2 separate regions of the Homo sapiens genome follow, and region 2 is linked to region 1. Evidence: fine-mapped expression QTL. A gene starts in region 1. The other region holds a variant in brackets. All regions are shown on one strand. Distances are from middle to middle.

Region 1 (8,000 bases):
TTCTTCTTCTGAGAATGGCAATTCCATTCTTCTGGTTCCTCAGACTAGGAATCTCTGTAGTATCCTTCCACTCAGCTGCCTTGTTAACACTACACATCCAATTTATGAGCAAATCCTATTGGGTTCAATTTAAAACATATACCTAGAATTCACCTTTCTCACTATCTCCGCCATTACTACTCTAGTTCAAGCCATCATCTCTTCTCTAGAATATTACCATAGCATTCTAGGTTGTCTCCCTGCTTCTTCCCTTGTACACTTAGTTCTTCTCCTGCTGCTCAAAAACCTCCAGTGCCTTCCCAATTTACTCAGAATAAAACTCCAAGACTTTATTACAGCCTACATGATCCTTCATGATCTGCCTTCTCCCCAGCTATGCCACTGACTTAATCTCCACTCTCCCTCACCCAATTTACTCAGTCTCCCTAGCATCCCTGTGCTCCTCAAAAATGAAAGGCAAGCTCCTATCTCAGGAACTTAAAGAGTCCCTGCTCACCCTCATATCCTTCTGATTTTTTTTTTTTTGAGACGGAGTTTCACTCTTATCACCCAGGCTGGAGTGAAGTGGCGCGATCTCAGCTCACCGCAACCTCCGCCTCCCGAGTTCAAGCGATTCACCTGCCTCAGCCTCCTGAGTAGCTGGGACTACAGCCCATCACCATGCATGGCTAATTTTTGTATTTTCAGTAGAGATGGGGTTTCACCATGTTAGCCAGGATAGTCTCAATCTCCTGACCTTGTGATCTGCCAGCCTCAGCCTCCCAAAGTGCTGGGATTACAGGCGTGAGCCACTATGCACGGCCTCCTTCTGATTTCTTCTTTGTTTTTTCTATCTAAAATATTACACCTCTTTATTTTCTGCTTTATTGTTCCTCTAGTGCTCATCACCATCTGACATTATTACACAGTTTTATCTGTCTCCTCCCATTAGAATGCAAGCTCTGTGAAAACAAAGTCTCCATTTTTGTCTACTACTGTTACCTCCAACACCTTAACAGGGCATGGCATATGATAGAAACTCAGTAACTTGAAGCTGCATGAATCAAAAACAAACAACAAAAAAAAAAAACAACATACAATCCGTACTCCTTACCAGCAGTACTATCCTCTAAAGCTACCCAAGGCAGTTATCGATGCCTCCTTCCTCATTTTGAGGGTTGCTGTTTCTACATTTTATTAAAATTCTAAGGTCTCCTTCCAATTTTTGGAGTTTTCCATTTTCAACCCTATATAATCTTCTACCTCATTTTTCTGCCATCTATCTTGTCCCCTTCAAGTCCAAGCTCCACACCAACAGAGTAAGATTCCTAAAGTGTAAATGTGATCTAGTCATTTCCTTTCTTAAAACTTTAAATGACTCCCATCATCCAAAAATAAAGTCAGCAACAGATGCACCTCTTTTTCTTATTGTGTGAGATCTTACATGATCACCTGAATGCCCGGGTTGAGTTGAAAGATTCCCCCTCTTCCTTATACATATTTGCCTCTTCCTTATACATATTTGTCTTACTCACTTTATAACCCTGCCTCTGGGAGCCTTTCTTGATTCCTCAGCCCCTTCTTTGTACTTCTAAACCTGTTGATTCTGCAAATATTTACGTGGCCAATTATGAACCAAACAAAGCATTAGATGCTGGGTATACAATGTTGTTTTTGGTGTTAAAGAACTTAGATTATACTGGAGGATACAAACTAGCCAAGTAGATTGTTAGAACACAATGTTGATTAAATGCTATGATGGAACAAGGTATTTGGGACTTAAAAACATTCCTTGAAGAGACAATATATAAATTAGACCTGATAGTTGAGCTAGAATTAGCTAAAAAGGAAGAGAAGGAAGAATGTTTTAGAGAGTGGAAACAGCACTTGCTGCTCCAAGGTTGAGAGCTTGGTAAATGAAGCTGGTTCCACAACATTGTCTCCCTGTTAAAACCCAGGTAACATTATGTCTCCAGTTGTAATTCAGGTATGTACTTTTTCTTCTCCATCAAATTACTCTTTAAGAGCCATATCTTGCTCATCTTTCTACATCACCACTTCCCTCCAAGTCCTGCAATACTTAACAAACCTAAATTATTTTTTCCAGATGTTCGGAATAGAAACTTTTATAATCTCAATTGTAATTCTTTCCAGTGACATGTTTCATTTCTTGTTTAGATTCTTACAAGCTAACTATTAAAGGCGGTGAAATGTAATTTATTAACACAATCTATTACTTACCGTTCTCTTTCTCCAGTTTCTATCAACTTTTGGTTAATCGCTGCTCTCATCTGCGCATCTTTGTTCATCTTGCTAACCTGGACATCAACATGTACTTTCAGATATAGAACATTTACAAAGCATTTTCTGCTAAATCCTCTAGGCAGGCATCCTAACATGTTTACCATTCTATTAACTGAAGGGGTGATACATTTCAAGTGTGTTAATAATATCATTACTCTTTATTAAACACTTATGTGCTTGGCACTGGGCTAATGCAGTGTGGGTTTGCTTTTTTTTAAACATCACATTTAATTCCCAGAACGTATTGTTACATATTTATATTAATAAAATAATCTGTATTTTACTGATGAGGAAACTGAGGCACAGAGATAGAAAGTGGAAAGGCAAAATTTGAACTCAAGTACTTTGACCCTAGGAGCTCCAAAACTGAACATAACTGCCGATCACTTCTGCAGAGACTGCATCCAAAAATTGGGAGAAGTCATACATACTAAACATCAAAAAAAGATTAAATACTATTAGTAAAAAAATAAAATTACCAGGCCGGGCACAGTGGGTCACACCTGTAATCCCAGCACTTTGGGAGGCCCAGGCAGGTGGATCACGAGGTCAGGAGTTCAAGACCAGCCTGACCAAGATGGTGAAACCCCGTCTCTACTAAAAATAGAAAAATAAGCTGGGCTTGGTGGCAGGTGTCTGTAATCCCAGCTACTCAGGAGGCTGAGGCAGGAGAATCGCTTGAACCCAGGAGACAGAGGTTGCAGTGAGCCGACATTGCGCTGCTGCACTCCAGCCTGGGTGACAGGGCAAGACTCTGTCTCAAAAAAAAAAAAAAAAATTAATTAATCAAAAAAAATAAAATTACTAGATAAGGCTCTAAGTGTTTTGCTTTACTCTTCACTAGGATGAACCCACAATTACAACTGCTAAACCTAAGTGTGTGGATGTGTGTGTTTACACACACACTGCTGGTGGGATAAGAAGAAAACAAATCTCAAACTAATTCCTAACTTACAAAGTCCTCAATTGTCAGTAAAAACAGACAACCCAAACCAAAATGATGTTGAAAGAAGAGGAAAGTTAGGTTTTGAAAGCGTTAAAGCCACTTAAAAGTTTAAATTAAATAAAACTTGGCGTAAACTAACGTTTTCCCACCTAATCTGTCACTAACTTGAGATTACTTTTGTTGTCTTCCATCTGGCCTATTGAAAATTCAGACTGGCAATGAGTTACCAGAGTTGATTTTTTTTTTCTTTTTTGAGAGGAACAGGGAAAAGGAGAAGTTGAGTGAGAACTAGGAAATGCTTGCTTTTGTAATTGGAGGCTAACATTTTCAAAATAACTACAAGGTCTAGTCAGTACCACTCCTGGAATATTGAACTTGATCTCGTCTTGGCTCCTAAAATACGGATAGTGACCTTGGACAAGTCACTTAATTCTTAAAGGCCTCAGTTTTCTCACTGGTAAAACAAGGGCGCTAGGGTATCCCTCCCAGTTCAGACATTCTTAGGGAAAATAGAACAGGGCGGAGACAGCGGGAGAGGCGGGAGAGGAGGAGCCAGAAAACAAAGCGAGGACTGGTTTCAGGCCAACTCCGGTAGCACGCCCTGTCGGAGAGCCCTACAGGCCCGCGAGCGCGGGTCGGGGACGCTAACGAAAGACAGTACATCGAAAGGAGCCTGGGCTGGGCCCGGGTCCCGGCCCTGAGGACCACGGGCATAGCTCACCACCATCACCGCGGGCGAGGGCCGTCCCTTCCCAGCGACGAAATGACCCTTGCGCTGAGGACCGTTACCTACCACACTCTTCGGCTGCCCGGACTTAGACCCTCAGTAGCTCGGGCACCTAAGCACACAGAAAGCTAGAACACGCATTTCCGGGGCGGGGTCTCGCCACCCTGCCTATAATGTGAGAATTTAACCAGCGCGGGCCGCCTCCTGGTTGCTAGGGCCTCTGGGTAACAGAGTTCAGACCTTGCCGTCGCGCGCGCGTTAAGTACCAGGAGAACTACATAGCCCAGCATGCAACAGTCTCAACTTTTTCACGGACACTACATTTCCCAGAAGGCAGTTCGCACCGCAGTGTTTTCTGGGATGGGAACCACGCCGCTTCCCAGTCTCTGTGCGAGGCGTGAAGCGCGGACCTTTCAACAAGGGCTTTATTAATTCTCACGCTGCGGCCCTGGAAAGCGATGGAGGTGGCGGCTAATTGCTCCCTACGGGTGAAGAGACCTCTGTTGGATCCCCGCTTCGAGGGTTACAAGCTCTCTCTTGAGCCGCTGCCTTGTTACCAGCTGGAGCTTGACGCAGGTGGGAAGCGGCGGCGCCCTTCGTACTCCGTTCCTTTCCCCTTTCGGCTGCCTCCGGCCTGACCCTTCCCGCAATTTCTTTCTTTCTGACTGGCAAGCGAAGCCACCGTGGCGGCTTGCGTGGACTCACGGAGGCCGCTGCTTCTGGGGAATGATGCCCATCCCAGAACCCGGTGGGAGCCGCCTTCGCGCGCTCTTCGGTAACGGGACCCTGGGCCCCCTCCGTCAGCAGCCCAGCCTCTGAGGTCTGAGGTCTGAGGGCTGGCGTGCGGGTAGTGCCTGGGGCTCTGGCTGCTGTGTGTCCACAGCCTGGCTTCTGTTTCGGGGGACGCTGAGAACATTCCTTCCTCCTGGAGCATCGCTTGTGAACGTGTGCGTTGAGAAACCACACCTCCTTGGAGGACCCCCAGTTCCTGTTTCCTCTGACCGAGAGCCGTTTCTTAGAAGAGAAACTACATTCCAGTCATAGCATTTTTAATTACTCAGTTCCTGGCACATTAAGAACTCTGGTAGAGAACATCTCTAGAAGATAGTGAGGAAAAGTGGATTTACTCCCACACTGCTACTCCTTGCTTTATCTGTAGCTGGTAGAATATCCTTACTCTTGTTTTTACAACTTAACGGCATTTTCGTTATGATAGAGCCCAGAGATCTGCATTTTAAAATTCACACCCCTGCTGATTCTGATGCATGTTTTCAGAGATCACACTTTGAGAAATAGTGATCTACAGTTAATTATAATAACAGACATTAAAGTATAAAATAAGTTTATGCTAATTGATTTATTAAATTCAGAAATATTTACCGAGTACCTGTTTTGTGTTACGTCCTGATAATATCAAAATGAACAAGACACCTTCCGTAACAAAAGAGGACTATTAGCTAGTTAGGAAGAAAATTGTAAACAGATAATTGTAAAACAATATGGGAAGGCAGTGATAGGGATATGTACAAAATACAATGGTAGTACTTGAATATCTTTCCTAAACTAGTCTGGGGATCTGGGAAGGCGTCTTGGAGGAGTTAATATCTAAGTTGAGCTTTGAAGGGTAGGTTAAGAGTTGACTAGGATGAGAGAGGATAAGCTTGATTTTTCTTTTTATTTTTTTCCTTTTCCTCTTTGCCACCGTGTTTCTTCCAGTCACCCCATGTCAGTAGATGGTATCACCATGTTTAGTTAGTGCATTAGAAAGTGAAGCCAAAATTCAGTGTCTCAAAACAAGAAGCAGTTATTATTGCTCACAAGTCTACGGGTCAGCTGAGTGGTTCTTCTAGTCCTAGTTGGGCTCATTGATGCATCCTTGTTCAGTAATGGATCTGCTGGGAAGCTCTGCTCATTTGGCTGGACTTCCTCATATGTTTGGAGGGTGGGGGTAGGGTCTCAGACTATAAGCTTGTTTAAGATTCTTTCACATGGTCTCCTCTTGACTTTTCTCCGTGTGGTCTCTTATCCTTTAGCCGACTAGACTAGCCCAGGTTGGTACCAAGAGACACTTGTGCCAGAGTCATTTGGGGTTTATTTCTTTTAGCCACTGTCTGCTTGGTAGCAAGTCCGGTCAGCTCCACATTTTGATATCTCTAGGCCTCCACCCTAATCCAAATCAGAGTTATCTCTTACCTGAACTCTAGTAGCCTCCTGACTAGCCTTCCTGCCTTCACTTTTGGGCTTCGTCATTGCATTCTCCATAAGACGTACTTATCGGCCTTTTAAATTCTATCTTGATTTGTTGTCTGTTTCCTCCACTAGACTATGAGTTCCTTGAAAACAGTGATGTTTTTCTTTTGTTCACTACCCTATATCTAGTGCTTGGCACATAGGATGTATTCAATAAAATGAGTATATGAAGAAGAGAAGAAATTGTTGAGGTCATTCCATTCATGGGAAAGCATGAGGAAAGGGAAATAATTAGTAGGTTGTATGCTGGACATCCTTGCACTCTTATATTGCTGGAGCAAAACGTCTGGGAAAGTGAGAGGAAATAAATCAGTGAGGGCCTTGTTTGCCTTTTGGATTTCTTGGATTTCCGGTCATTCAGTGTTTCCCTGACATTTTTGTATTGAGCCATTACAATATAAAATAAAACTCAGCTGCTGTAGTTCTGCCAACTTTTCTGTTTACTAGGTGGAGATGTTTCTTAAAAACTATCATTTACTCATCTATCTTTTCATAAACAAAAGGATATTTTAACACCAAAAAAGCAGGAAGCAAAATCTCACAATAAACAATCCATTGAATACTTTAACTTTAGAAAAAATTCACAAAGTTGTCCTTGTTCCGTACTCATTTCATCAGCGTTAATCTTAGATTCTGTGTTTGGGATGTACAGCTGCAGGATATCAGGTGCCATTTGAAGATTTTTTTTTTTTTTTTTTTTTTTGAGTCTGAGTCTTGCTCTATTGCGGAGGCTGGACTGTAGTAGTGTGATCTCGTCTCATTGCAACCTCTGCCTTCCGGGTTCAGGCGATTCTCCTGCCTCAGCCTCCCGAGTAGTTGGGATTACAGGCGCCCGCCACCATGCCCAGCTAATTTTTGTTTGTTTCTTTTTGTTTTTGTTTTGTTTTTTGAGACGGAGTCTCTGTCGTTGAGGCTGGAGTGCAGTGGCGCGATCTCAGCTCACTGCAACTTCCGCCTCCCGGGTTCAAGCAGTTCTCTGCCCCAGCCTCTGGAGTAGCTGGGATTACAAGTGCCCGCCACCAAGCCCAGCTAATTTTTGTATTAGAGACGGAGTTTTACTATCTTGGCCAAGCTGGTCTTGAACTCCTGACCTCGCGATCCACCTGCCTCGGCCTCCCAAAGTGCTGGGATTAACAGGCCTGAGCCACTGCTCCGACCGATTTTTTTTTTTCTTTGAAGTTCCGGGGTACATGTGCAGGATGTGCAGGTTTGGTACATAGGTAAACGTGTGCCATGGTGGTTTGCTGCACCCGTCAACCCATCACCTAGGTATTAAGCCCAGCATGCATTAGCAATTTTTCCTAATGCTCTCCCTCCCCCTACCCCATTCTCTGACAGACCACAGTGTGTGTTGTTCCCCTCCCTGTGTCCATGTGATCTCATTATTCAGCTCCCACTTACAAGTGAGAACATGTGGTGTTTTGTGTTCTGTTCCTTCGTTGGTTTGTTGAGGACAGTGGCTTCCAGCTCCTTCCATGTCCCTTTGAAGGATATGATTGTGTTCCTTTTTATGGCTGCATAGTATTCCATGGCGTATGTGTACCACATTTTAAGTACAAGGGACGTGAACAGATACGGGAGTTGAAAAGCTTACCTCAGACTCTGTGGAGGTTGAGTTTGGAAGATGAGATGACTGCACACAGCAGATAGGAGGCTTTTGCAATAGTTCACATGATGAGTTTTTCATTAGGAATTACTTGAGGATGATGAAAAAGATTATTTTGTTTAAAAACTATCATTTCTAGAGATAGTGAAGCATAATTGAGGCGCTTCTGGTAATTTGATTTCTTTTAT
Region 2 (16,650 bases), 90 kb after region 1:
TTGAGGGGCAGAAAATCATCCAGGTTATTAGAAGTCTCCTACCACTGGAGGAGGGCAGTATCTCTGAAAAACCTCAAAACCTGAAACTGAGGTCACAGAGTACTGAGGCTGAACCAGACAGTAGAGAATGCTTTTCCTTGACTCCCCAACCCACATCCCCCTCACCATCAGGCTAGGAAGCACATCAAGCAACAAGTAACCACAGCCTACCACTAGAGAGGAAGCAAGAGCATAGACTCTGAGGTGAACATGCACAGTGAAGGCCTAAAGCTTGGGATGGAACAATACCATTGAGGAAAGTACTCGAGCAAAACTGAGTAACCTATGAATTATAGTGGAACTCAAAAGGAAAGTTAAAACATATTTTGTATTGAACGAAGATGAAACATGGCACACGTGGAATACAGCTAAAGCTTAGGGGGATATTTACAGCATTACATGTTATACTAGAAAAGAAAAAAGTGCCCCAATTTAGTACTTTAAGCTTTCACATTAAGAAACTAGGAAAAGAAGAGCAAACTAAATCTAAAGCAAGCAGAAGGAAGAACACTGTAAGGATAAAAGTGGGAACCAGTTAAATTGAAAGAAGGAAATAATAGAGAAAACTAATAAACTAAAAGCTAGTCCTCTGAAAAGATCAAGATTGGTAAGTCTCTAGCCAGACTGAGGAAAAAGAAAACACAAAGTATCAACATCAGGAATAGCACTTAGGATGTCAATGGAGATCCTAAAGACACTAAAGTGTAACCAATGAAGTCTTATGCACAACTATATTTCCATGTATTTGACAATTTATATGGAACAAATTTTTTAAGCTGCAAAATTACTAAAGTTCACTTAAGAAATAGATGAGACCTGGCCAGACACGGTGGCTCATGCCTGTAATCCCAGCACTTTAGGAGGCTGAGGCGGGTGGATCACGAAGTCAGGAGTTCAAGACCAGCCTGGCCAAGATGGTGAAACCCCGTCTCTACTAAAAATACAAAAATTAACCAGGCGTGGTGGTGGGTACCTGTAATCCCCGCTACTCGAGAGACTGAGGCAGAGAATTGCTTGATCCTGGGAGGCAGAGGTTGCAGTGAGCCGAGACTGTGTCACTGCACTCCAGCCTGGGCGACAGAGCGAGACTCTCTCCAAAAAAAAAAGAAAAAAAAAAAAAGAAATAGATGAGACCTTATTAGTTATATCTGTTGAAGAAGATTAAATTCATTTTTAAAAACTTTCCAACAAAGAAATCTCCAGCCGCAGATGGCTTCACTGGTTTATTTTACCAAATGAAGAAACAATACCAATTCTCTACAAACTTCTAGAAAGTTGAAGAGAAAGGAACACTTTCCAACTTACTTTATGAGGCTAGCATTACCCTGATACCAAAGACATTAAAAGATGAGAAAACAGGAAGGAAAAAACTAGTATCCTCCATGAATACAGACACAAAAATTCTTAACAAAATATTAGTAAATGAAATCCATCAATAAGTAAAAAGGAAAATTACATTATGACCAAGTAGGGTTTATTCTGGGAACTCAGAGCTGATTTTGTTATTCAAATATCATCAATCAGTATAATTCACCATATCAACAGACTAAAGAAAAATATTTGATCATCCTAGTAGTTGCAGAAAAAGAATATGAAAAAAAAATACCATTCGTTGATGATAAAAATGCTGAGCAAACTAGGAATTGAAAGAAACTGCCTCATCAGAAACCCTAGAGTTAACACCATACTTCATGGTAAAAGACTGAAGGCTTCTGCTACAACTGGGAACAGGCCAAGATGTCTGCTCGCATTACTCCTGTTAAGCATAATGCTGGGAGTCCCAGGTAGGCAGTGAGGCAGGAAATAATAGTGAAAGGCATAAACAGCTATCAAGAGATTCTAATACCACCATGAAAAAAATGAAGCCAAACACCTTTTAGGCATTATCTTAAAATAATGCTCATGTTCAGTTTCTTTATCCACTCTTAGTTTGGAATCTTTGAATTGTTTTCCTTTTGTGGCATCTGGCCAACCTAAGAAGTAGCAAACATCTGGCAGTGGCAAAATCTTTATTTTATTTAGCTGTATGAAATACTTAGTTTTGAAGTAAAAAATAGGGAAGCTAGAATTTATTTAATAAGTAAAATGAGTATCACATAGTCTCTTACTACATACAGAAAGAAGTAAAGAATTCAACAATTCTTGCCAGGCACCAGTGGCTCACACCTGTAATCCTAGCACTTTGGGAGGCTGAGGCAGGAGGATTGCTTGAGTTGAGTTCAAGACCAGCCTGGGCAACATAGTGAGACCCCTCATCTCTACAAAAAATAAAAAAATTCCCCAGGCATGGCAGTGTGTGCTTGTCGTCCCAGCTACTCAGGAGGCTGGGGTTGGAGGATTGCTTGAGCCCAGGAGGTCAAGGCTGCTGTGAGCCATGAATGTGCCACTGGACACCAGCCTGGGTGACAGAGTGAGACCCCATCTCAAAAAAAAAAAAAAAAGAATTCAACAATTCTTTATATATCTCATTTTTTAATGGGATTCTTATGTCTCTCCGTAAATTATATGTAGTTACTGCCATCAAAAAATTGACTAGTTTGTTTACTTTGGATTTTAAACTTTAAGGTACTTGGTTTTGAGTATATGTTAAAAATCCAAATCTTATTTGAAACATGACTTTGTCCCTTTTCAGGGGCAGATCCATTTACTGAGGAATATATGCATTACAGGAATATATAAAATTGAAAGCAATAAGCATACATTTGTAACCACTGATAAAAATAGAATTTATATGACAAAATGACAAGTAGAACAATGAATTCTGTATTTCTCATTTTTGAAATGGTACAAGAGTATAGAAATTTGTCTCAAATATGCTGGGATTAAGACAGAATAAGTGTATGTTATTTTTATAGCTATTTACACATTTCTGAGACATAAAATTGTATAAGAGCTGTAGCTGTGAGCTACGGGAAGATTACTTGAAAGCTGCTATGCTTTTCTGTCAGTGTTACTCATCTCATTCTTAAAATTTGAAATGCCATTAATATACAAAACAAAATGTTTTAAGAATGCTGGAAGGGTAATAATTAACATTAATACTTATTAAGGGCTTTCCTAGACAGGTAATAATCAACATGAACACTTATTAAGTTCTTTCTAAGCTTTGAAATATATTGTTTACTCATCATAACAATTGTGAAGTGAGTAGTAGTTACCATATTTATAAGGGGAATAAAATGGTTTAAATATCCTACCCAAAGTCATAGCTATCACCCTCAAAGAGCATATAAGTGAAATGAAGAGACAAACTCTATAGGAAAAGTATAAATAATTAGTTGCAATACACAATTTCTTTTTATTAGAATTAGGGAAAACTTCCTTGGAGGAGAAGATGCCATTTGCATATGGCATAGAGTGTATAATGGACAGGATATGCAACAGGTTAAAAAAAAGCATGAATAAAGGAATGGGGAAATAGGGGAGACAGTTTTGCAAATTGTGATCCAGTTTTGCTAAATGTTATATTTTAAGGAAAGTAATAGTGAATATTGAAAAGTATGCTGGGGTCAGGTTTCGAAAAGCTTTCAAAATGCCATTTAAGGCAATGTGGACCTTTTTTTTTTTTTTTTTTCCAAACAGTGGAAAGCTATAGAGGGAAATTACTGAGAAACTAACATTTCTGGAAGTGAGAACTAAAAGGCACAGAGAACTATGTACTAAGTCTAGAAGCTCTTGACCCTAGTCACCCTCTTGTTAGGTTAAGAACCTAATTATGAGATTTTTGCCTTACAGAATCTTCAGCCAATTATTCTAACTGTAAAATAGATAATTCCCAAATCTAAAGATAGATTAGCCTTGGTGAAGATATTACAGAAATAATCACTTTTTACATAACATTCATTTAAAAAAATTTCTTTACAATTTGGAGAAAAAAGGGCAGACTTCTAGTTCCTAAGAAGAATTAGTGTTGTGAGATGGGTGGTATGTTAGGTTGCTGTTATTACTGCAACGAATTGCTGCAGGTGTAGTGGTTGAAAACAACACAGACTTATTCTCTTACAATTTGGGAGGTCAGAAGTCCTAAAGTGGTTTGTAGGGACTACATTCATTCTGGAGGCTCTAGGGGAGAATCCATTTCCTTGCCATTTCTAACTTCTAGAGGCTGCCTCCATTACTTGGCTTGTGGCCGGGCCCATCCTGTGTCTTCAAAGCCAGCAGTATATCATCTTCTAAACTCTGTCTATCCCCTTGATTTTGTTGTTATCTCACCTTCTGTGTCTGTGGCCCTCCTCCCTCCCTAAGAATACTTCTTAATACATTGAGTCTACCCACATATTCCAGGATAATCTCTCCATCCCAGGACCTTAAACTTAACCACATCTACAAAGTCCCTTTTGCTATATAAGGTAACTTATTCACAGGTTCCAAGGGATTTAGATGTGGACATCTTTGGGGGACGTTATTCATCCTGCCACAGGTGGTATGTAAAAATATTAATAATCTAATATAATATGATAAATAATTTGATAGGAATAACATACATGATGCTGGAGTTCTCAGAATTCAAGCAGCTCATATAACCACGAGAGTGGGGGAATTCTGAGAGCAACTGATGGTTGAATTGAGTCTTAGAGGATAAGTGGGAATCTATCAGGTAAAAAAAATACAAGGAGTCCAAACAGAATGCTATGTCAAAGGTATGGCAAAGACAAGCTGTATGAAATTGCTAGTTTCACAATTAACAACACTTGACACAGTCGCCATAATGGAAATATGCGTAAGGTAAGTGGCTGCTGAAGTGAAGAAACATCTAAGTCAGAGTGAGGGGCTCATAATAAGGCACCTACCTTCATTCTTATCCTCTTATTTTCATGATTGATCTCCCTTGGTGGTCACCTTTCACTTCGTGGTTCAAGGTCCTCTATTCTTTTCTCACTGCTGTCTCTTCAAGTATGGATGGACCAGAGATCATTCAATTATATTAATCCTCATAATATTCAATACATTCTTTAGGCACTTGGCTCATGAAAGTAGATGTATTGTTGTGAAAATATTGTTTCAACTTGTATTTTATTTTAGCTGTTGTTTATTTTTCTTCTGTGAAAGCCCTTGGTTAAAAAAAATAGAGTATCAGAGTTGGAGTACAGGGAAGAGAGCTGAAGCAGTGTTAGGTCTGTCAAACATAATAATAAAAGGCCAGTTAGGTAGTGGTGACTTTGAAAATAAACCTCATCTAGCCACTGATCATCGGGAGTAAGGAGAGAAAAGAAATAGTCTGTGGTCTCTGTGTGCTGGCCTTCTCCCCTTATTTTGTAGAGAGCAAGCACTGGCTCTACGAAAAAGCCCTATTTCCCTGGCATTGCTGGGGAGCAGAAGATGGGTTGCTCTGACACTGTATTCTCCTGTGACCAATAGCCTGTGTTGTCACAGCTTTACCAATAATAGGTCCCCTTGCTGGAGAGCCACTTCACAGCTTTCCCTGTTGAATTCAGGTCAGGTCTCCACTTCTTACTTTAACCCAATCTTTTACGGTTCTCCAGTCTGCTTGCAAACTCCTAGAATCAATTACATATTTATAAGTACTGTGCATATTTTATATTTTCTACATTTGATGTGATTTTTGTTGGTATTCTGTTTCGTATTTTCAACTCTGATAATAACATTTCTCATAAAGAAGACTATCCTTACAACATGTCTTCATTTAGAAAAAGTATTGCTGTAGATGAAATTCAGTGAGTTTCAATTTGATGATTTTGTATTAAAATGCATTTCTTTAGGCATCAATATTGCAGTAACAATTATTGATGTGTTACAATAACAAATGTTGACATTATTGACATATTGACATTGATACTTTAATTAAGCAGTACGTTTAAGTAAATAGTTTTAAACATCTGAGTGTGAATTCCAGCATTGTGATATTTCTCTTTAGCCTAGAACAAGTTACTCAAACTCTCCAAGCCTGTTCTTTCATCCCTTAAATGAAGATAATAATAGCCTTGCGAGTTGTTAAGATTAGTATTTATAACATGCCTGGTTATAAATGTTATGAGAGTGTGCTCATAAATTCTGGTAGTGTCATTGTTCTTGGTAATTATTACAAGTTAGCATTAGTAAACTTCATGTGTGTATTCTATGGCCTAAAAATAGTCTGCTTATAAAATTGGTGCTTTATATCAGCAGTCCCCAACCTTTTTGGCACCAGGGACCAGTTTTGTGGAAGACAGTTTTTCCATGGGCCTGTGGGGGCTTGGTGGATGGTTTCAGGATGAAACTGTTCCACCTCAGATCATCAGGTATTAGTTAGATTCTCATAAGGCAGACAGCCTAGATCCCTTGCATGTGCATTTCACAATAGTGTTCACCCTCCTGTGAGAATCTAATTCCACTGCTGATCTGACAGGAGGTGGAGCTCAGGCAGTAATGCTCCCTTGCCTGCTGCTCATCTCTTGCTGTGCGGCCCAGTTCCTAAAAGGCCACTGACTGGTACCAGTCTGCGGCTCAGTGACTGGGGACCCCTGCTTTATATCGTGTTTTAAACTATTTACTAACAATTAAGAGGTGGTATATCACGTGGTGATTAAGAACATAGACTCTGGGTCCAAATTTCAGCTCCATGACTTATGGCCAGGCTGACCATCGACAAGTTACCTAAATGCCTTGTGCATCACTTTCCTCAGCTTTGAAATGAACATAACAGTAGCACATTTATCTCAGGGATATTATGAGGAGTCAATCAGATTAAGTATATAAAAAGTATAAAACAGTTGCTGACACTTAATGCTGGCTGTCAGCTTCTGCCATTGTTATTGTTGCTATTATTAATTTGTTGTTGAGTAAATTTTTTTTTAAATCACTTTTTAGGTGAATCTTGGAAGCAACCAGTACCTTTTCTCTGTCATAGTGGATCCTAAAGAAATGCCCTGCTTCTGTTTGCGCCATGATGTTGATGCCCTACTCTGGCAACCACACTCCAGCAAACAAGATGATATGTGGGAGCACATCGCAACTTTCAATGCTTTAGGTATAAAGCAAACTCTTTGACATTTTCCATGAAATCAGAAATACAGTCATCATTCATTTAAAGTTCATTTCTTTTTTTTCTTTTTAATTTGAGCTGTCCTGATTACATTTAGATTGATTTGCGCTATGATTTGTTTGCTTGTACTAGTTGTGAGTGTTAGCACTGTTGGAACATTTAGACTAATCTGTTTTTATGCTTGTACAGAAGATCAACACAGAATAGAAATGAAAGTGGTTATCTAACCACTTGAATTATTCTAATAAGTCATTTGCTTTTTCTAATTCTGTAAGCCATATAATACTGGAGTCTGAGCAAGGAGCTTGATAATACCCTACATGGAACTGGTGTTCAAGTTTCTTCAGAGTAATCTTCAGAAACATCATAGAATTCCCCTAAGGTGTAATGCACATTAGGAGACATCTTTTGTCAAAATTAAGTACAAAAGAGAGCCATTATAATGAAAATACTTATGGAAAGCGGTGATAAGCAGAAATTAAATTTATTTGGTAGGATAAAAGGAAAAAAATCAGTTTTAAAATTAGGGCTTGACAATGTTTAAACTACTTAATTATAGACGTATGCAATCATTGATTTTCTGTCAAAATGCATTAGTATTGTGTGACAGAAATTTTTTATGTGAATTAGCCACAGTTGTTGCTTTATTGAAAGGTTATTTTAAACAGGCAGCAAGAAGTGAAGTTACGTATTTTGATGGCTATATGTGCACAACCCTAATTGTAGAAGAAATTTATTAATTATCCCTTATAGTTAATAATGTAGGCTGCTAAACTGGTTCAGACTCCAAATGGATTTTTATGACCTGAAGTACAAAGTTTGGTTAACTAATTTAACCATATAATTTTTAGCCTCCCTACTATAATGCTATTTTTTAATTATCTATACTTTGGTCAGAAGAAAGCTCTATCATATCATCTTTAGATGCTCAGATGTTCTATTTGTATCCCCAAATCCCCTATTATAGGGGAATTCTATGCTTAATTCTAAGTTAAATCAACATATATTAGATATGTACTCTTGAAATATTATATACATTATTCTGTCAAGGTTAGCCTGGATAGCTACTTTAAACTATTTAAATAGGTATCTAAATCTTCACTTTTCCTGCTTCAAACCTGCTTAATATTTTTAAAAACAGTATTGATCTGCATGTGCTCAGTAGTTCCTTTGCTTATTCATTGTTTGATGAGATCTCAATTTTAATTAATGTTATATTCTTATTTTACATGATCATAAATACCTAACATTTGCTAACCATGTCACTATCTAAAAATCATAATTTATATTTTGGAATATAAATGTTGTTTTAATCCAAAAAGATACTTTTTAAACATGTACATGAATTAAGATAAGGATTTTTTTCAGTTTAGAGACTTGAAATTATTTTTGAAGTTATAGTGATCAACATTCTACTTGTGGGGGCTAAAAGTACAAAAAAATCCAGTTACAGTGTTGGTATTGATGTATAAAAATATCACTAACATTTTAGGGATAATAAGAGAATGCATCACGAATACTAGTACATTCAGGGATACATTATGAACAGAAAACTAAAATAACTTTATGATGGTATCCTATACACATTTTCCAATTTATTTAAGAGGAAAAAAATGGTTCTGTGATGCCCTATCCGTAACTCACGAAGCTAAATATTAAATTGGCACTTAAAGATATTTTGTCATGTATTGAGTGTTTTAGATTTTAGAATTTTAGTGTTCGAATTATTCGTGGAAATTAAATGAAGCTATATTACGCTTTTTTTGAAGCGAGAAAGCCATATCTGTTTTGTTCCTTAGGAATTAAAGTCGTATTTTTGTACCAGATGGGAGAGACTGATTGTGGCTAATCGTTAATGATTCAGAATTATATACCTTATGGTATATATTTTACTTGGGCATTTTAATTTGTAATAAACATTGCAAAATATTAAATGTTAAATCATCATTTTTCCCCTTCTGTTTAATATATAGTTTTTCTTTTGTTTGTCTCATATTCTTGGCAGGCTATGTCCAAGCATCAAAGAGAGACAAAAAATTTTTTGCCTGTGCTCCAAATTACTCGTATGCAGCCCTTTGTGAGTGCCTTCGTCGAGTATTCATCTATCGTCAGCCTGCTCCCATGTCCACTGTACTTTACAACAGAAAGGAAGGCAGGCAAGTAGGACAGGTTGCTAAGCAGCAAGTAGCAAGCCTAGAAACCAATGATCCTATTTTAGGATTTCAGGCAACAAATGAGAGATTATTTGTTCTTACTACCAAAAACCTCTTTTTAATAAAAGTAAATACAGAGAATTAATTATTCTAACATATTGGCCTCTTTGTACTGGAAAAGTATTCAGTGGTACCTGGAGGTCTGGACAGTTATACTGTAACCTCTTAAGTTTTAATGTGCTAAATATATCTTGTATGATTTTTTATTTTTTAATAACATTGGAAATATATTCAAGAGATTATGATTCTGTAAAGCTGTGGAATGAAGCTGCAGATTTAGAGAACATTGGCTTCTGAAAAAAAAAAAGAGTGAAGATAGTACTAGCAAGTATACTTATTTTTTAAAACAGGCTAGAATCTCATGTTTTAT[A/G]TGAAAGATGTACAATTCAGTGTTTAAAAATAAAAATATTTATTGTGTACTCTGTTCGTTGATTAGTTGCTACAGGCTGTACCTATAAGATGTACAGGATAATAGTTAAATGTTGAGTATTGTACATATGTATTTAAGTGGATTGAATAACTGAGTCTACATGGAGGAGGAAATGCTAGAGAACAGCAGGTCTAATATTTTTTAAGTTTACTGAGAGACCTTTATTATTATTTTCAAATTAAGTATAGCTTTATGTAACTTTTAGCCAGTTGCTCTGCCACAGACATAGACAAAGAGAGATAAGATTTCACATTATCCATCACTGCATAACAAACCACACCAAAACTCAGTGGTTTAAAACAAGGACTTTTATTATTTTTCACGATTCAGTGAGTTGGCTGTCTCTGCTGTACAGGGCCTCTCAGCCTCCAGTAGACTAGACGAATCTTCTTTCCATAGTAGAGAAAACATCTTAAGAGAGCAAGCTCCAATATGCAAGAGCTTATCGATCCTGTACATCTATCATATTTACTAATGTTCCATTGGACAAAGCAAATCACATGGCCAAGTCTAGAGTCAGAATGAGGGGACTACACAAGCTGACAGCGGATGGTATGACTCATTGGGGGCCATTGATGGAACAATCTTACCACACAAGGACAAATTATAATTTATCCTTGTGGCTCTCTTTATTTTTCTAACAACTTCAACAAAATAATCCTGTTTATATGTTATAGTTTCTTGCCACAAATTTTGTTTTTTCAAACTTACCTTTCCAGGTTTGTTTTAGTATGTATGTACCTGGAAATTTTTATTACTTTTTATACCATTTCAAGATATGTATCTTATATAAACCTCAAGTTGGATTTTATATTTTAATAAGGAAGTTAAGACCTTCATTTAAGAGGCAGAAGATTAAGATAAGAAATATAAGATAGAAAAGCTTTGTTCCTAACATATCTTTTGCCTGTCTGGGCAAGTATTTGACTCAACTAAATTTTAATGAACGAATGAATGACAGAGAGGAGGAAAAAAGATGAGGATTGCATACATGTTCTAAACCCTTTGTCAGATTGCAGTTTCCTAGAGAGTATTGAGGTGCTAGGTAGAAAGTTAGGAAAGGTCCTGAGGACTGGTATTGACAATTGGAGTCCTAATAGTACTCTATTCGTATTAGGAAAGAGAGACTAGATACCAAACATCACGAGATCATAGAGATGGAAAACTGTATAGTAACCAAAAACCAAAACAGTGATATTTCCAGAACTTTTTAGTATTGTTGTAAAACTTCATGAAACAAAAGACCATTTAAATAGTGAATTATTAAAAATCTTTATGATGGGAAAGTAGATCTAAATTTTCTCTAAAATTTTCCCCAAAGATAATATCCTCTTAGGGAACATAAGAAAAATGTATAATAAAAATGTGGTGCTTAATTAACCATGACTATGTATATATTGCCAATTTTAGTAATCAATATTCTTTGTGCATGTGATTTTTTTGCATGATTAATGTTGAATTGAAAGCTCTCAGGATAATTAATCCTAAATATTGTCGCATGTTGACCTACGTTAAAAGATGAATAGGTCTAGAGCCGTGATTTCAAGCTATTTTCCTGAAATGCTTCAGGGATTCCATAAACATTTAAACAATGTTCTAAGGTACATATACTTAGAACATTGAGATATATACTACAAGTGCTAAGAATATAGTACCTTGTATTTTTGTTGATTTTTATCATGTTTTAAATAGGAATTTATAAAATATTTATGATAGTAATAAAGTAGTATTTTATGTGTTTTGCATATTAAGAGTCATTAACAATATTCACTCTTTTAACACATTTAAGCATCAACTATGTACCTTAGCATGATTTTTTCAGTATTAAGGATAATATATTACTAAGGATAAAGAGACAATCTACATTTTAATGATTTTCAGATAAAATTTCTTTTTAGGGAAAAAAAGAGGAGAGGGTGGCATAGAGTGGTTGCTTTCCTGCTAAGGAAGTCTGACCAGGGCTAGAACCTTGGGGACTACCCACAAGAGTCAGGTAGAGGAGTTGCCAATGGGAAGAGTTAGAAAAAAGAATCAGAGTGTCAAGAAATTAGGAATGGTTAACAATGTTAAAAAAAATACTCTTAAATAAAGTATACTCATCAAATTTCTACATAAAAGGGAAATGACTGTACAGAACAAGTTAAACCATCATTACACAGGAATTTCTAATATTTTGTGTTATTAACTATAGAAAAGAACAGATGGTAAGTTTATGTGTGGCAAGTCATATAAGAAGGCAAAACTGATACTTATCACTGATTATTACTGGAAGAATATTCTAATTACTTCTTAGTAGTAAGTGTGTCTTACTGAACAAGTAATAATAGTTGAGTGGTAAAAAACAAAAGCCCAATGATGGAAGTATAGAAGTAATAAAGCAAAGAGAAGTAAGGCCTTCTAGAATTGGTAAGAAAGAATAAATGCACAAAAAGAGCCAAGGTAAAAGGTACCCAACTAGATATCAAGATACATCATGAAGCAGTAAAAAGAGTAGCATCATTGCATTAGTAAACAAAATAGACACACATTTAATCGTCCTATACTTACAAGAAGAAAATATCTATATTCTCAAGGTTGAGAAGGCTTCTTAAGATCCAGAAGGCAAAAATATAAGCGAAAGGATTGATGAATTTGATCATTACAAAATGTAAAATTTCTTTATGACCTACTTTTGGTATAAGATAAAGCAACAGACTGAGGAAAGATATGTGACTTATGCGTAATGTATGAATGTTAAAATCTAGAACATAAGAACTATCATTTAATAAAAAAGCAAACAAGTTATACAAAAGGAAAGCAGACAAAAGATATGAACAGTTAATTCACAGAAAAGAAAATAAAGATGGTCAGTAAAGCTACAGTAATCAAGAAAATGTGGTATTGGCACCAATTTCAACAAATAGATCCATAGATCAGAATAAAGAGTCCAGATGGAGACTCAGACACATATGGTCAGTTGATTTTAGTCAGAGATATTTCAATGAAGAGGCAATTCAAAATGCAGAGATAATTTGATGGAGAAAAGATATATTTTTAACAAGTGGCGCAAAAACAATTGGGTATTCATTTTTGCCTTTGTAGTAGCCTAAATAGTGGCCACCTGAAGATATCAGGTTCCAATCCCTGGAACATGAAAATATAACCTTATGAAGATAAAGAGTCTTTGCAGAAGTGATTACAATGAGGATCTTTACATGGAAAAATTATCCTGGATTATCTGGGGTGGACCCTAAATCTAATTGCAGTGTCCCTTACAAGAGAGAGGCAGAGTGCAATTACAAACACAAAGAGGAGAAGCTTATGTGAAGATGGTGTTTAAAAGGCCACAAGCCGAGGAGTGCTAGAGCATGCTGGCAGCCACCAGAAGCTGGAAGAAGCAAGGAATAGATTCTCCCTCAGAGCCTCTGGAGGGGGAATGGCCCTGCTGACACCTTGATTTTGGTCTTCTGGCCTCAGATCTGTGACAGAATGCATTACCACCGAATTTGTGGTAAATTCATTACAGCGGCCATAGGAAACTAACACAGCCTTATATCAGAATTTACTTAAAATGGATCATGGACCTAAATGTAAAACCTGAAACTGTGCAACTTCTAGCAGATAACATAAAGGAAAAATTTTGTAAGGCTGGGTTAGGCAAAGATTTCTTGCATATGACACCAAACAAGAAAAGTGACAAATCATACTTCATCAAAATTAAGAAATTACGTTCTTAGGCAGTGTTGTGACAATGAAAAGCCACAGATTTGGAGAAAACATTTACAAATCACTATTTAATAAAGCACTAGTGTCCAGAATGTATAAAGAACCCTCAGAACTCAATAATAAAATAATCAAATATGTAAATTTTTTATTGGGCCAAAATTTTGAACAGATACATCATACAAGATGAATGGCAAGTAAGCATGTGAAAAGGCACTCAACGTTATTGGTCACTAGGAATGAGCAGATTGAAAGCACAATGCGGTATCACTACATAGCTATTGAAATCCTTTAATTGAAGACTGACCATTCCAGATGCTGGCAAAGGTATGAAACAAATGGAGCTCTCAAACACTGCTGTTTGGAATGTAAAATGGTAGAATCGCCTTTGAAAAGAGTTTAGTGGTTTTCTAAAATGTTAAACATGGATCTTCCATGTGACCCAGCTATTCCACTTACCCATTCTTTTACCTAAGAAAAATGAAAGTATATGTCTATTCAAAGATTTGAACAGAGCAACAGCATTCATAATAATCAAACCTCAGAACAAGTCAAATATCCATCTACAGATGAAGGGCTAAATACATTGTGCTATGTCCATGCAATGGATTATTACTCAGCAATAAAAAGTATCAATATACCCAACATAGATGAATTGCAAAGTAATTATGCTGAGTGAAAGAAGCCAGAGTACATACTGTATGCTTCAACTCAAAGTTCTAGAAAGTGCAAACACATAGAAAACAGATCAGTGATTACCTGAGCGGGAGGGATTTGAAAGATTATAAATGGGCAGAGAAACATTTTAGGTAAAGAGATATCTTCATTATCTTAATTGTGGTAGTTCGTGAGTGTATATATACACAAGTTAAATTTTATTAAAAAGTATACCTTAAGCATTCCATTTTGCACATCAACGCCTCAATAATGCTTTTTAAATTTGTTTAAAGATTAAGTATTGAATCTTATCAAAATTTTCTTATTGATTTAATTTCTGCTTTTTAATTTTTTTTTTCTTGTGTTGCAATGGCATTTTAGTGCATGTTTCCTATATCATGGGGATCAGCATCCCTTCCCTTTTATCTTGGAAGTATACCCATTCCCCTTATTTTGGAAGTATACCATAATTTCTTTCTAAGCCAATATATTTGTGTGTTACTGACTCTGTCCTTGGTACCATGTATAGAGAACATTATTAAGGCTAAACCAGTCAGTACTTTGCGAAAGCAGAATCCCTGGTCACAGTGACTGGTTCATAAATGGGCACTTGACCCATTTAGAAACAGTGATTCACAGTGAGAATTTGCAGTGATTTCTGGGACAAAGGCTTACCACTGGATGTAAGAATAAAGGGATATAAACAAAACCCCATTTGTCACTACAGTAAGGTGAGAACTTCTCAAAATAGGGAGCCAACAAAGGATGGCACTAAGAGACTGAGAAAATGAACCTTGATAATATAATCTAGTCCTACCAAGCAATTCTTAAAACCAGCTGTTCTTAGAATTTTGGATAATGGGAGTCATTAAGTTTTCTTTTTCCCTAAGTCAGTTTAGGTCAGATTTTCTGTTACTTGTACTCAGAAGAGGCCTGATTCTGTGGTGGAAAATTCTTTTAATGTATGATTATACTGTGCACATTGAGACTTTATTCTAGATTTTTACATCAGAATCTATGGATGAGAATTACTGATATTTTAATCCACATAGGGGTTTAATAGATAAGTTACAAGTGCTTTTTAAATGGGGGAATTTTTTTTCACTTTAAAATAGTTTAGCAACTCCTCAAAAATGTATATTAATGAAAATAAATTTGGAAGAAGTTTCTGTGGTACCAGGGAGGGAAGATAAAAGTAAATGTACTTTCAATCCTGAAGCTCTATTTTCTGACTTCAGTATTTTCCATGCACCCAGTCTACAATTTTTTTACTCCAAACAGGAGAAAAAAAAAATCTGTAACATATTACATTTTTAAGCCATTTAAATTTTTTCCACTTCTGCAACTGACTTTTTTTTAAGTGTTTGAGATTCACTTTTAATGCTTGCCAAAATATCCAATATGAATCTATCTCATAGTGCAGGAAAAAATGATATCAGGTGAATATTGAAGAAGATTAAACATATTCTTGACATTAGGATAAATATTGTTCTCATATCTGCCATCTATGTTTTTCACAAAGAACATGTAGTTTGGCCTACAAAATTAATACAGTCACTGAAATTTATGAAATGAAGAACTCTCAAAAAACTATTCTTCTGAAGTCTTTTACTAAGTAGTAAATAAGCATTCAGTGTTTTTCCTTTATCTACAAATATACACCTACTTAGAGGAAAAAGAGAAGGATGAAGATATCTTAGTGGAGGCACAAGGCAATATAAGCATAAAGCATACCCCTACGTAGGTTGATATAATAGGAAGTTCATTAGTGGTGCCTCAGGAACCCAGCTGGAATCAGGTGTGAGGAGAAATAACTGAGATTGCAGCCAGCACGGAAAGCTGCTTTGTAAGAGTCTGGCAGTTTTTCAAAAGGTTAACAGTTACCATATAACCCAGTAATTCCTCACCTAGGTATATATCCAAGAGTAATAAAAACCTGTACACACATGTTTATAGTAACCAAAAAGTATAAACAAACCAAACAGCCATCAACTGACCAATGAATAAATAAAATGTGGCTTATCCATACAGTGGAATATTGTATAGCAATAAATGATGCTACAACATGGATAAACCTTGAAAACATTATGCTAAGTGAAAGAAGCCAGTCATAATAGGCTACAGATGGTAGGATTCCATTTATATGAAAAGGCAGATCTCGCTGGGCATGGTGGCTCATGCCTATAATCCTAGCACTTGGGGAGGCTGAGGAGGGCAGATCATTAGAGACCAGCCTGGGCAGCATGGCAAAACCCCACTTCTACCACAAAAATAACAAATATTAGCCAGGTATGGTGGCACATGACTGAGGTCGGAGGATCACCTGAGCCCAGGAGGTCGAGGCTGAAGTGAGCCATGATTGCACCACTGCACTCCAGCCTGGGCATCAAAGTGAGACCCTGTCTTTAAGAAAAAAAAAAAAAAAAAGCACATCTATAGAGACAAAGTAGATTAGTGCTTGCCAAAGGCTTATGGGCTACAGTGGGGAAGGAATGGAAAGTAACTGCTAATGGGTATAGGGCTTATTTTGGGGGTGACAAAAATTGATTGTGGTGATGGCTGCACAACTCTGATTATACTAAAAACCCTTGAATTATACACTTTAAATAGGTGAGTTGTGTAGCTTG

Evidence for each region.
Region 2: its variant is fine-mapped to the expression of NUDCD1 in skeletal muscle (GTEx, PIP 0.94).

The regions. Positions count from the first base shown.
Region 1 is chr8:109,330,425-109,338,424 of GRCh38, reverse strand. NUDCD1 (NudC domain containing 1) reads left to right here and starts at 4,338. Exons shown (of 10, transcript NM_032869.4): 1 at 4,338-4,532. The coding sequence starts at 4,415. ENY2 (ENY2 transcription and export complex 2 subunit) reads right to left here and starts at 4,078. Exons shown (of 5, transcript NM_020189.6): 1 at 3,951-4,078; 2 at 2,221-2,297. The coding sequence starts at 3,956. RefSeq lists enhancers at 3,797-4,046, 3,312-4,234, 4,417-4,466, 4,597-4,646.
Region 2 is chr8:109,235,678-109,252,327 of GRCh38, reverse strand. NUDCD1 (NudC domain containing 1) reads left to right here. Exons shown (of 10, transcript NM_032869.4): 9 at 6,847-7,006; 10 at 9,027-11,409. The coding sequence ends at 9,319. Among named protein-coding and RNA genes, the nearest start is that of NUDCD1, 90 kb to the left of the region's middle. The variant A/G (reference allele first, on the strand shown) is at 9,605.